2 separate regions of the Homo sapiens genome follow, and region 2 is reported to be linked to region 1. The links are microRNA targets in miRTarBase. Many come from high-throughput screens and were not tested one by one. Region 1 holds a microRNA gene; the other region holds the end of a gene's coding sequence.
Evidence for each region. The annotated mature microRNA hsa-miR-513c-3p reads UAAAUUUCACCUUUCUGAGAAGA and lies in region 1 at 3,413-3,435, opposite strand. An mRNA with a match to its seed (bases 2 to 7 or 8) in the 3' UTR can be bound and repressed. Matches are read on the target gene's strand: a 7mer-m8 pairs with bases 2 to 8, a 7mer-A1 pairs with bases 2 to 7 and ends in A, and an 8mer does both.

Region 2: miRTarBase lists CPEB3 as a target of hsa-miR-513c-3p. Seed matches in the 3' UTR shown: 7mer-A1 at 3,614-3,620, 8mer at 3,100-3,107 and 7mer-m8 at 2,208-2,214.

What each region holds. Positions count from the first base shown.
Region 1 is chrX:147,186,305-147,191,508 of GRCh38, forward strand. It overlaps MIR513C (microRNA 513c), which reads right to left and starts at 3,483; the gene lies at 3,400-3,483. All of the region lies in intron 1 of LOC105373347 (periphilin-1), which reads left to right.
Region 2 is chr10:92,047,926-92,053,129 of GRCh38, forward strand. CPEB3 (cytoplasmic polyadenylation element binding protein 3) reads right to left here. Exons shown (of 10, transcript NM_014912.5): 10 at 1-4,514. The coding sequence ends at 4,287. Among named protein-coding and RNA genes, the nearest start is that of BTAF1, 130 kb to the left of the region's middle.

The DNA of each region.
Region 1 (5,204 bases):
GAAAGATCCACATCTAAATTTTATCAAACACTGTATCCACATTATGATGTTACTGGAATTATTTCATTACTGCTATTCATGTTTTTCACACCTTGTATGTGCTTTCCACATTGTTCTGTAATAAATAGGAATTATCCTCATGGTCTGAAAAAGAAATACATCAATAAAAATGTAGTTTTCTTTGGCAGAATTCTGATATAAGAATAACTCGGACAGGTGTAAAAGTTGTTTTTGGCAGTTATTTTTCCTCTTTTGAGCTTCCTGAATCTATACATACTCAGCCTGTTCAGTTAGAGTTCTTGCCTTTCCATGTTCCTGACTCCTAAGCTGAACACATTTTAATTTATTATATATTATGAGGATAAACTAATATATTCACATTAACGAGGTGACGAAATTATAGTATAGCAAGGAAGGTCCAGAATGAATACGTAAACATTAAACCAGGGTTTTTCATGTGCTAGGACTACAACACAGATCAAAACAGCTTCAACACATGCTAACAGAACTGACATTTTAAAACACAGATAATTTTTACAAAGTAACTAGTAAAATACTTAGTATACACAGGAGTGCTAAATTATATGTAGTTATTTATGCTGGATATATGTTATATGTAATTCAATAATGTGATAAATATTTTTATTCTGTAATTTGCCTTTTTATTATCTCAGTGGTCTTATTTGAAGACGTCTTAATTTTTTCAAAGTCTATTTTATCAATTTATTTTTAATAAATTTTATTTTTATATTTTGATATCATATGTAATAATTTAATGGTCAAAAATATTTTCTCTCATTTTTTTCATGCAATTTGATAGTTTGACGTTTTGGCTTAAGATTGTGTTAATTTCTGTATGTGGTTTGAAATACGATCAAGGTTCATATTTTTTATATATCTCACATTTCCCAGCATCTTACTGTTTAAATACTATCATTTCTTCATTAGATTGACTTTACAGCTTAGTCAAAATGAATTGGTGACATATATGGATATTTCTGGTCCTTCTATTTGTCCATCCTTTCTTCAGTACCACAGTACATTGGGTAATCTAATTAGACAGTAAATCTGGAAATTACAAGTGTAAATTTTCCAGCTTTGTGATTCTCTTTCAGATTGTTTTGGATATTCTAGTTTATTCGCCTTTTATATCAGTTTTAGAATCATCTTGCTAATGTCTACAAATATTTTTCTGGGACATTGGTTGGAATTGTATTACTTCTAGAGATTAATGGAAGTCTAAAAGTCTATAGATTTGAATCCTTCAATCCATAAATATGATAGTCCTCGCCACTTAATTAGTATTTTTTTTTAGTATATTTACAGTTTTAGCATACAGATGTTTTGGGGTTTCTATTGATACTGTAATAAATTGCCACAGATTTAGTTGTTTACAACAACACAAATTTATTATATTAGAGTCTAAAGGTCAAAAATCTAAATTAGGTTTCTCTTGGCTAAAATGAAGGCATTGGCAGGGCTTTGTTCCTTCTGTTGGCTCTAGAGGAGAATCTACTTGATTGTCTTTAGAAGATTCTAGTTACTTTCTCCATTCTTTGGCTCATGGCCTTTACCTCTACCTCTAGTCAATACTATAGTATTTTGCAATGTTTCTCATTCTAACCACCTTTCTCCAACGTATAAGGGCCCTTGTGATAATGTTGGGCTCACCTAGATAATCTAGGATAATCCCAATCTCAAAATATTTAATAACATCTACAAATTTTCTTCTACAATAAAATATGATGCTTACGAGTTCAGGGGTTACATTGTGAACATTGTTTGGGCGGGGGCTGTTACTCTGCCTACCACAGAGATCTTGTAATTTTTTCTTAGAGTTTCAAATAAATATTTTATGTTCATATTTTATTTTTCAATTAGCTTGATTTAATCATTGCATAATGTACACATATATCAAAACGTCATGTTGTACACCTTAAATATGATTTTTATGTCAGTTAAACCTTAATAAATTGGAAGAAAAAAGGCTGAGTAATACAAAACAGTATTTCACTGAAAAAAAACACAAATACCAGTAAATATACTATTCTTTTGAGAAATCATAACAGAGGTATGATAACAACTAAATTCTCTTTTATTTCATTTTAAGATATCACTTAAAGTTATATAAGTAAACATGCATCACTATAATACAGTTTTAGAAATTATATACTAAAAACAGTTATCACTTTGGAAAATTCTATGTACATACAGTATTGCAAAGTGACAAAATTTTTTTACTGTTCAGAATGTTGCCCCCACCCCAAAAAGATTGTATGTATTCTATTATTACAATGTTTTTCATTATGGAAAAGATACTTCAACTGTTTTTTTTACTTTCAGACATTAATGGTCTTATACATATTCATACATTCTGAATCTAAAAAAACATAAACCAAAATCCTGCCTGTAACCATATAGTAATTGTTTTTTATAGTTTTTCCCTTTCGGTGTTTATGCTGTAGCCTCTGTTTCAGTTGGAATCAAAATTGTATTAATCACTTACTATTTATAACATTTTTTACACATTTCCACAATATAAATAGCTTATTTATAACCTACTTCCCAAACATGTATACTAGATTAATGCTGCAGATGGCCTTACATAGTCTGGTGCTTGTCTTTCTCTTGCATGTTCTCTCTCTCTCTCTCTCCTCTCTCTCTCTCTCTCTCTCTCTCTGTGTGTGTGTGTGTGTGTGTGTGTGTGTGTGTGTGTGTGTGTTTATTTCCCTCTATTTCTCTCCATTAGGTTAAGAGTTAAGCGTCACCAAAAGAAAATGGGGAGAGAAGCCTAGGAGATATCTCTTGAGTATCAATTCTGTCATACCCTTCCATTCTTCAAATATACTCTTAAAAAATGGGGAAAAAAGATAATTAAAAAGGGTGAAATATTCTTGGGTGGACTATGCTTAACCCTTCATAAATTGGTGACTGAAGGCTTTGAAAGGTATTTTAACAGTCAATGAGAAAATGTTTTAGTCTTTGACAGAAAATGGACACTGTGGATCAGCAATGAAGGGACCTGAGAGGCAGGAGAGCCTTTTGGGAGCACTAAAGGACAATCCTTGCAAATGATGACTAGTTGATCAGTGAAAAGAGTTTAGAGAATTGAGGAATCTGGAGTAAAATGTCTCAGCTGACGAAGAATGGCTGTGGCCTCTATACAACGTATTTCTTATTTGAGCCAAGCCTCATTTGGCAAAAGTAGATAAATTCTTAAGGAACCAAAGTGCATGCGTTTTCTCAGGAGTCCACAGTTCTTATGTGTAGTCGTCTAGAAGGCACAAAAAGTTCCTTGAAGTAGCCCAGCACTGAGGAGTGGGTGCACAGGATGCAAAACAGGCATCACCATGCTCGCAGCTACAGCCCCATCCCTAGGGACACCACATATGCAGTGCATGCTGTACATTACTCTTCTCAGAAAGGTGAAATTTATATTTTAGTTCACATAAACGACACCTCCTTGAGAAAGGCACTGTACGCTGAATGGCTGAATGTGGCATCCCAGACCAAATGTTCCCTATTCATGCCGTTTTTATTCAAGTCCCTATAGGTGTATGCCTTCGCATGGCCACCAAGATTTATGCCAAGTAACAATGCAACTTCTAGCCCCTAGCACTCCCCTTTTCACCCTGCCCTGAGTGAGATATTAACATGCAGATTTTTGTTTTGTTTTGAGACGGAATCTGGCCCAGACTGGCATGCATTGGCGTGATCTTGGCTCACTGCAACCTCCGCCTCCCGGGTTCAGGTGATTCTGCCTCAGCCTCCTGAGTAGCTGGGATTAAAGCTGTGCACCACCATGAACAGCTAATTAACACGCCGATTTTTAGGCTGAGCAATGATAGAGCTTTTCACTTCTCCTCTTTTTCAGAGGTGAGTTATCCTTGTCTGAATTATCCCATTGGTTTTCCTGTAATTTTGCTTGTCTCATTAAAAATCCTCAAAGTCTTTGCTATTGTGAATAATGCCGCAATAAACATACGTGTGCATGTGTCTTTATAGCAGCATGATTTATAGTCATTTGGGTTATATACCCAGTAATGGGATGGCTGGGTCAAATGGTATTTCTAGTTCTAGATCCCTGAGGAATCGCCACACTGACTTCCACAATGGTTGAAACCAACCCAAATGTCCAACAATGATAGACTGGATTAAGAAAATGTGGCACATATACACCATGGAATACTATGCAGCCATAAAAAATGATGAGTTCATGTCCTTTGTAGGGACATGGATGAAATTGGAAATCATTCTCAGTAAACTATCGCAAGAACAAAAAACCAAACACTGCATATTCTCACTCATAGGTGGGAATTGAACAATGAGATCACATGGACACAGGAAGGGGAATATCACACTCTGGGGACCGTGGTGGGGTGGGGGGAGGGGGGAGGGATAGCATTGGGAGATATACCTAATGCTAGATGACGAGTTAGTGGGTGCAGCGCACCAGCATGGCACATGTATACATATGTAACTAACCTGCACAATGTGCACATGTACCCTAAAACTTAAAGTGTAATAAAAAAAAAAAAATCCTCAAAGTCAGGCTAGGCTCGGTGGCTCACTCCTGTAATCCCAGCAATTTGGGAGGCCAAGGTGGGCAGATCATCTGAGGTTAGGAGTTCGAGACCATCCTGGACAACGTGGGAAAACTCCCATCTCTACTACAAATACAAAAGATTAGCCCGGCGTAGTGGTGGGCGCCGGTAATCCCAGCTACTCTGGAGGCTGAGGCAGAAGAATCACTTGAACCCAAGAGGCAAAGGTTGTAGTGAGCCAAGGTTGCACCTTTGCACTCCAGCCTGGGCAACAAGAGTGAAAATCTGTCTCAAAAAAATCTTCAGACTCAGCCGGGCATGGTGGCTCATGCCTGAATTCCCAGCTCTTAGGGTGGCCCAGGTGGGGAGATCACTTGAAGCCAGAAGTTTGAGACAATCCTGACCAACATGGTCAAACAAACATGGTAAAACACCATCTCTACTAGAAATACAAAAGTAGCCAGGTGTAGTGGCTTGCACCTGTAATCACAGCTACTCTAAGCTGAGGCAGGAGAATCACTTGAACCAGGAAGGCAGAGGTTGCAGTGAGCAGAGATGGTGCCAATGTACTCTAGCCTGGGTTACAGAGCGAGACCCTGTCTCAAAAAAACAAAAACAAAAAACCCTTAAAATTACAGTTAAGTACAAAGGACCAACCAC
Region 2 (5,204 bases), not on the chromosome of region 1:
TTGCTTTGACTGTAGGTGCTATTGCAATGACACATTAATGACTGTGCCTTAACTGCCCAGCTTCCAGGTGAGGAGGGTGTTGGAAAAGCAGCAGCAGAAAGGCAGACAGATCATGCACGCAGTTGCCACAATGAAAGGCAAGGGGCACCAGAACAGGAAGCAGGCATGGGTGTGGAGGAAGATGCAACCCGACACATAGTCAGGGTCCACAGACAGTGGTGACATCCGAGTGTGCTTCCTCAGTGCCACCAACTGAGCCTTACAGGGAGGCAGCATGAGTGAGACCCTGCAGGTGAGGTCTGCAGTACACCACGAAAGCCGTGTCCTCTTAGCAACTTCCTGTATGACTCCGATATCACCACTGTCAGTGCACATAAAAGATTCGGCCTGGGAGAAAGGCACTGTCTCACACAAGGACAGCAGTTGGTGGCAGTTTTTCTCTCTCTCTCTCTCTCTCTCTCTCACACACACACACACACACACGACATAATGACGAGTTAGAGGGGAAAAAGCAATGAAACATTCTGTTGACTTAGCCAGATTTTAAACCCAGTGGTACTTCGGTTGGGTGACTTCATTCTCAGGGCCACAGGTTTGGCTGCACCTGGTGTTGTATAAATCCACCGTGACATCCCTAGAGAACTGCACTGTGACATCCCTAGTCTTACACTAAACCACTGTGATAAAGGAAAAGGCTTCTCAAAATCTCACATGTTCTGCTCATTCTGTCATTTTATTACCCAATTATCCATTACATTTCCAATCACTTTACATAACCAAGCATTTTCATCGTTGTCACACTATTGTAAACCACATCAGCAAGTTAATACATAAAGCTTTGCATTTCAAAAAACTAGACACTTTAGTAACAATATTACAAAGGTTTTAGCTTCAAAAATAACTGAAAATGAAAAAAATAAACTTTTAAAGAATTAGCATCATAAAATTAATTTATTCCAATAAAAATACAAAATAATATTATGACATTGACCAGATATGAAAGTCCCTCCCAGAAACAACTCTATTAATGATTGAGAAAGCACTCCTTAAAGAAAATACGAAATAAAATGAAAAATATGTAAATATGTTTAATTTTTTTCTTAGCAAAAAATCTTTCTAAAAATAACAATGAAAATTTGTCTCAGTACAAAGGCTACATTACTATTGAAAAAATACCAGCATGAAGAAAAGGTACATATTTGACAGTAGAAAAATGATTTCAGTGAATCACAATGTCTAAAGTTTGCAATGAAAATAAATCTGCAATAAAGATTTATGCCTTTTTTCTTTTCTTTTTTTTTTCTATTTTTTATACAAACAGTACAAACAGTATTGCACATAACAACAAATAGTCGAGGTTAGGTTATAGCCTTCAAAAAATCGACTAGTTCAAGTGTCACACCAAGGAAAGGCCACAGCAGGACCTGTGTTACCCAGGGGCTTCCCAGTCAAGTTGCAGGTCAGAACACCTCTGTGTTTTAAAAAATAATTTTTTTGAAGGACCCTCTCTTTTAATATAACATTAACAACTTGGGGGCACATTTATTTACAAAACAAAAGGGAACATGTTATAATTTAATAAACTAAAAAAGTTCTCTTTAAAAAAATACAAACAGAAGAACTCTTTCACAATCCTGGTCAGTCGCGCACAATCAACACTTGATTAGAAATATACAAATTAAGGGAAAGTAGTTTCCACCATCTATTCACAACTTTCAGCACCAAATGGAGTTTATTTTTTGTAACCTATTCTTCAGGACAATGTTTTTTGCCTTCACTTTAGCTTTATGCTGTACAATCTTCCAGCTTTTAAAAAAATCTCAGTGTTATTTTAATACATGAAAGAGGGGTGCTTCTTCAAAAAGTTTTGCTTCTTTCACATAATTAGGTAGATTTCTGTAGGTTAGATATGATCTTTAATATTATAGTTATAAAGCTCTAACTTCTTCATTTTCAAAAAACACAAATAAGCATGAAAAAAATAAAGTTACCCATCTGTTAAATCATTTTCTTGCAGAATTAAATTAATATATATTTTTCTGAATAAACTTACTTAGAAAATATCATTTTCTTTCCTATATTTCAAAATTGAGGTATTGCAAAAGATCATGTCAGTCAGAAAGCATGCCTTTTTCCTTAAAAACAAAAAAAAAAATCTGCCAACTTTTGAAAACTGTCTAGAATACAAAAAGTAGTAGTGCATAACAAAATTTCTTGTACAGATGAAAAAAAACCCACAAACATAGAAAAAAACAAACAAAACCACACCTGGGCTGGAAAAAAGCAATTATTACCAAAAAGCCTCAAAAAGGGGAGGATTCTAAAATAAGCATTTTTAATCCAGTAAAAAACTATTTTGTTTTTCCTTTTTGAAAACAAACTATAGCTTGAGAGCCAGTAATTGCAACTAAACATGGGAGAACAAAACAAAAACAAGCAACACTAACTTAAGACAGTACAAGGACATCACAGCACAGAAAACACAGCGACTTAAATCTATTCTGCAGTGTCATATCCAGTCAGATTGTCCCCAGAATTCCAAAACATAGGAAGAAGATTAAAAAAAGATTTACATAGTCTTGCAATCATTGTGTGTGTTTATATATTACTATCTGCAGCCCAAGGGTGAATGCTAGAAAAATGTCCACGCTAGTGCTAGCAGGCCTTCATTCTAGACCACGCTAGTGCTAGCAGGCCTTCATTCTACTCAAGCTTAACAGGATAAATCCAGGGAATTAAGTAGTTAGTTTCTCACTCAGACAACCAACTCTGCCCAGGCCATCTTATTTTGTACAGACATTTCTTTAGCATCACCATTACACAACTTTCTTAAAAATGTGCCTAGTTTGTCAATCTGACAACTTATCTCTATATCCTGTATATATTCTTAGTGTTTGTAAGCTAAGATGAGCTCTTTGGTTTTCTGGACAAGGTCTGAAGCTATGTAAAATGGTGCAAGCACTAAGAGATTGTAACTAAGAGCTCATGTGTTAGTTTATAATATATCAGTTATGAACTGTCAAGTTCATTAATGTCTGACAGAGGCTTTAAACAGTTAAGTTTGATCACAGTTAGACATAATCACTTTACTATATAAAATAAATTTCACAATATATAACAGAGCACCGCAAAGTACTTCATCTACCATCCACAAATTTGCTTGAAGAATATCCTACACCTAGGTTTTATATCGGTTGTAATATAGGTCATTCTGTTATGGGCTCTTCCCATTCAGAGCATTCCATTTATTGAGGCATGCCTTCCTCCGGTCAATTACCAATTCTTTGAATGAAAAAAACTTTTTTTAAAAAATGAGTATTTTTATAGCTTATATAGATTCTTAATTTGTGCATTGTGGGAACGTTTTATACTAGACATTGGATATAAAATTTATTGCATGCAGCAACCTGATTAAGTAAACATGCAGTCAGAAATAGTGACCTTCCACCGAAGCTTTCTGAAGTCTATTCTGATCTCCGTTCGGCAGCTGACTCTATCCCTAAAATCACAAAAGTGTGTTGTTGGGTTTTTGTGTTTAATTGATATCCTAGCCTGAATAGAGTATTATGGTATTAATAATACCATTTTAATAGCAGCAAAAGCTATTGCAGCATAAATTTACATAATACTAAAAGATCTAACCAAAATCCTCGGCAAAACAAAAATCAAACATGAAGGAAAAATAAAAGATCCAGCTTATGAGGTATCCTTACAAGTCAAAATAGAGAGCAACTAAAGGCTTATTTTCATGAAGGGTTATCCTTACTCTAAGTGACCCGAGCTAATGATTGCTGAATTGTTGTGAAGTTTTTGCTACATCTGCCACCTACTCACGAGTATTACCTTTGGTAAGTCTTGTCCTAGGGGCAACTCTCTAAGTTTCTGAAAATAAGTGCATGCTCCAGTTCAAAACAATCAGAACAACACCACAACAACAAACAAAAGAATCACAGACAGTAGCCTGACGGCCGCTGATGAGAATGGCAGTCTACATACTGTCACGAGTGACAAATCAGGTATAAAAAATTAAGGTACCAAGCAGACAAAGGTGTGAATCAAAGTGCAAATCAGTACCATTCTACACTCTGCAATTCTGCATTATACTGGACACTGAGTTCAGTAATATGACTGTAAATAATAATAATAATAATAAAAAGACCCAATTCTTCTTTAAAAATCGAGAACGAATGCACAGATTTCCAGAACACTGTAAGCCCTGAGGCAGTGCCCTCTCTTTTCCCTCCTTGTTATCTACTCCAGTACTTGTGGCTGGGTCGGCCCGTGGCTCAGCTCCAGCGGAACGGGACGTGACGAGGGCGGTCGCCTCCCTCCTTCACCAGCGGTTTGTGGAACTCCCGCCCGGCTCGGGAATGTATGCTCGCCCAGCAGTATTCACAGTAATACTGCAGACAGGTGACGTTGGCACAGAAGAACGGGGCAAACTTCCCACCACAGCGTGTGCCCTGGCACTCATCACACATCTGATCATCCAGCACATATGGCTTTACTTCAACCTGGACCCAAAGAGGAAAGACAGAGAAAAATGATTTAGCAAAGCTTCCTTACATGTCTTGCTTTTGAGAGTTTACACTATAGCTTCAACGTATGTCTCAATCAGACGCTGCTTTCAACTCTGCTGATACTGGATGGTGGTTGAGAGCATGGGCTTTGGAATAAGCTCCTTGATTTACATCTTGCGTGATATTAGACAAATTCTTAAAATCTCTGTGCCTCTGTTTGCTCTATCACTGTATCTGTAAAATGGGTATGTTTACACACACATAAACACATTACACACACACATTTGTGTAATCTGTAAATGGGTATAACAGTGTTTACATCAAAGGGTGCTGGGGAGGATTAAGAGGGGCTGTGCACGTCAAAGCGCATGAGCTGAATCCTGAAAGCCGGGCAGCATCTGACAATGCAGGCAAAGAAGAACATTGCAGGGAGAGGAAGCAGCCAGGACAAAGGCCATAAGCAGGAGGAGGCAGGCACATCCTTGGGAGATGCTGTAGCTGAAGCCAGGCCCGAGGGCAAGAGGCACAATGAATATGGGAGGAGCTGAAGGGAGATGCTGCTGTGAGGCTGTGCACCTCAGTGTCGTAATGACACAGCTCCCTGAGACTAACACCCCAACATTGCATACCATGGACTGGAGAGGAAAAGGGACTCACAGCTGAGGTGTTAAGAAGCTACTATAA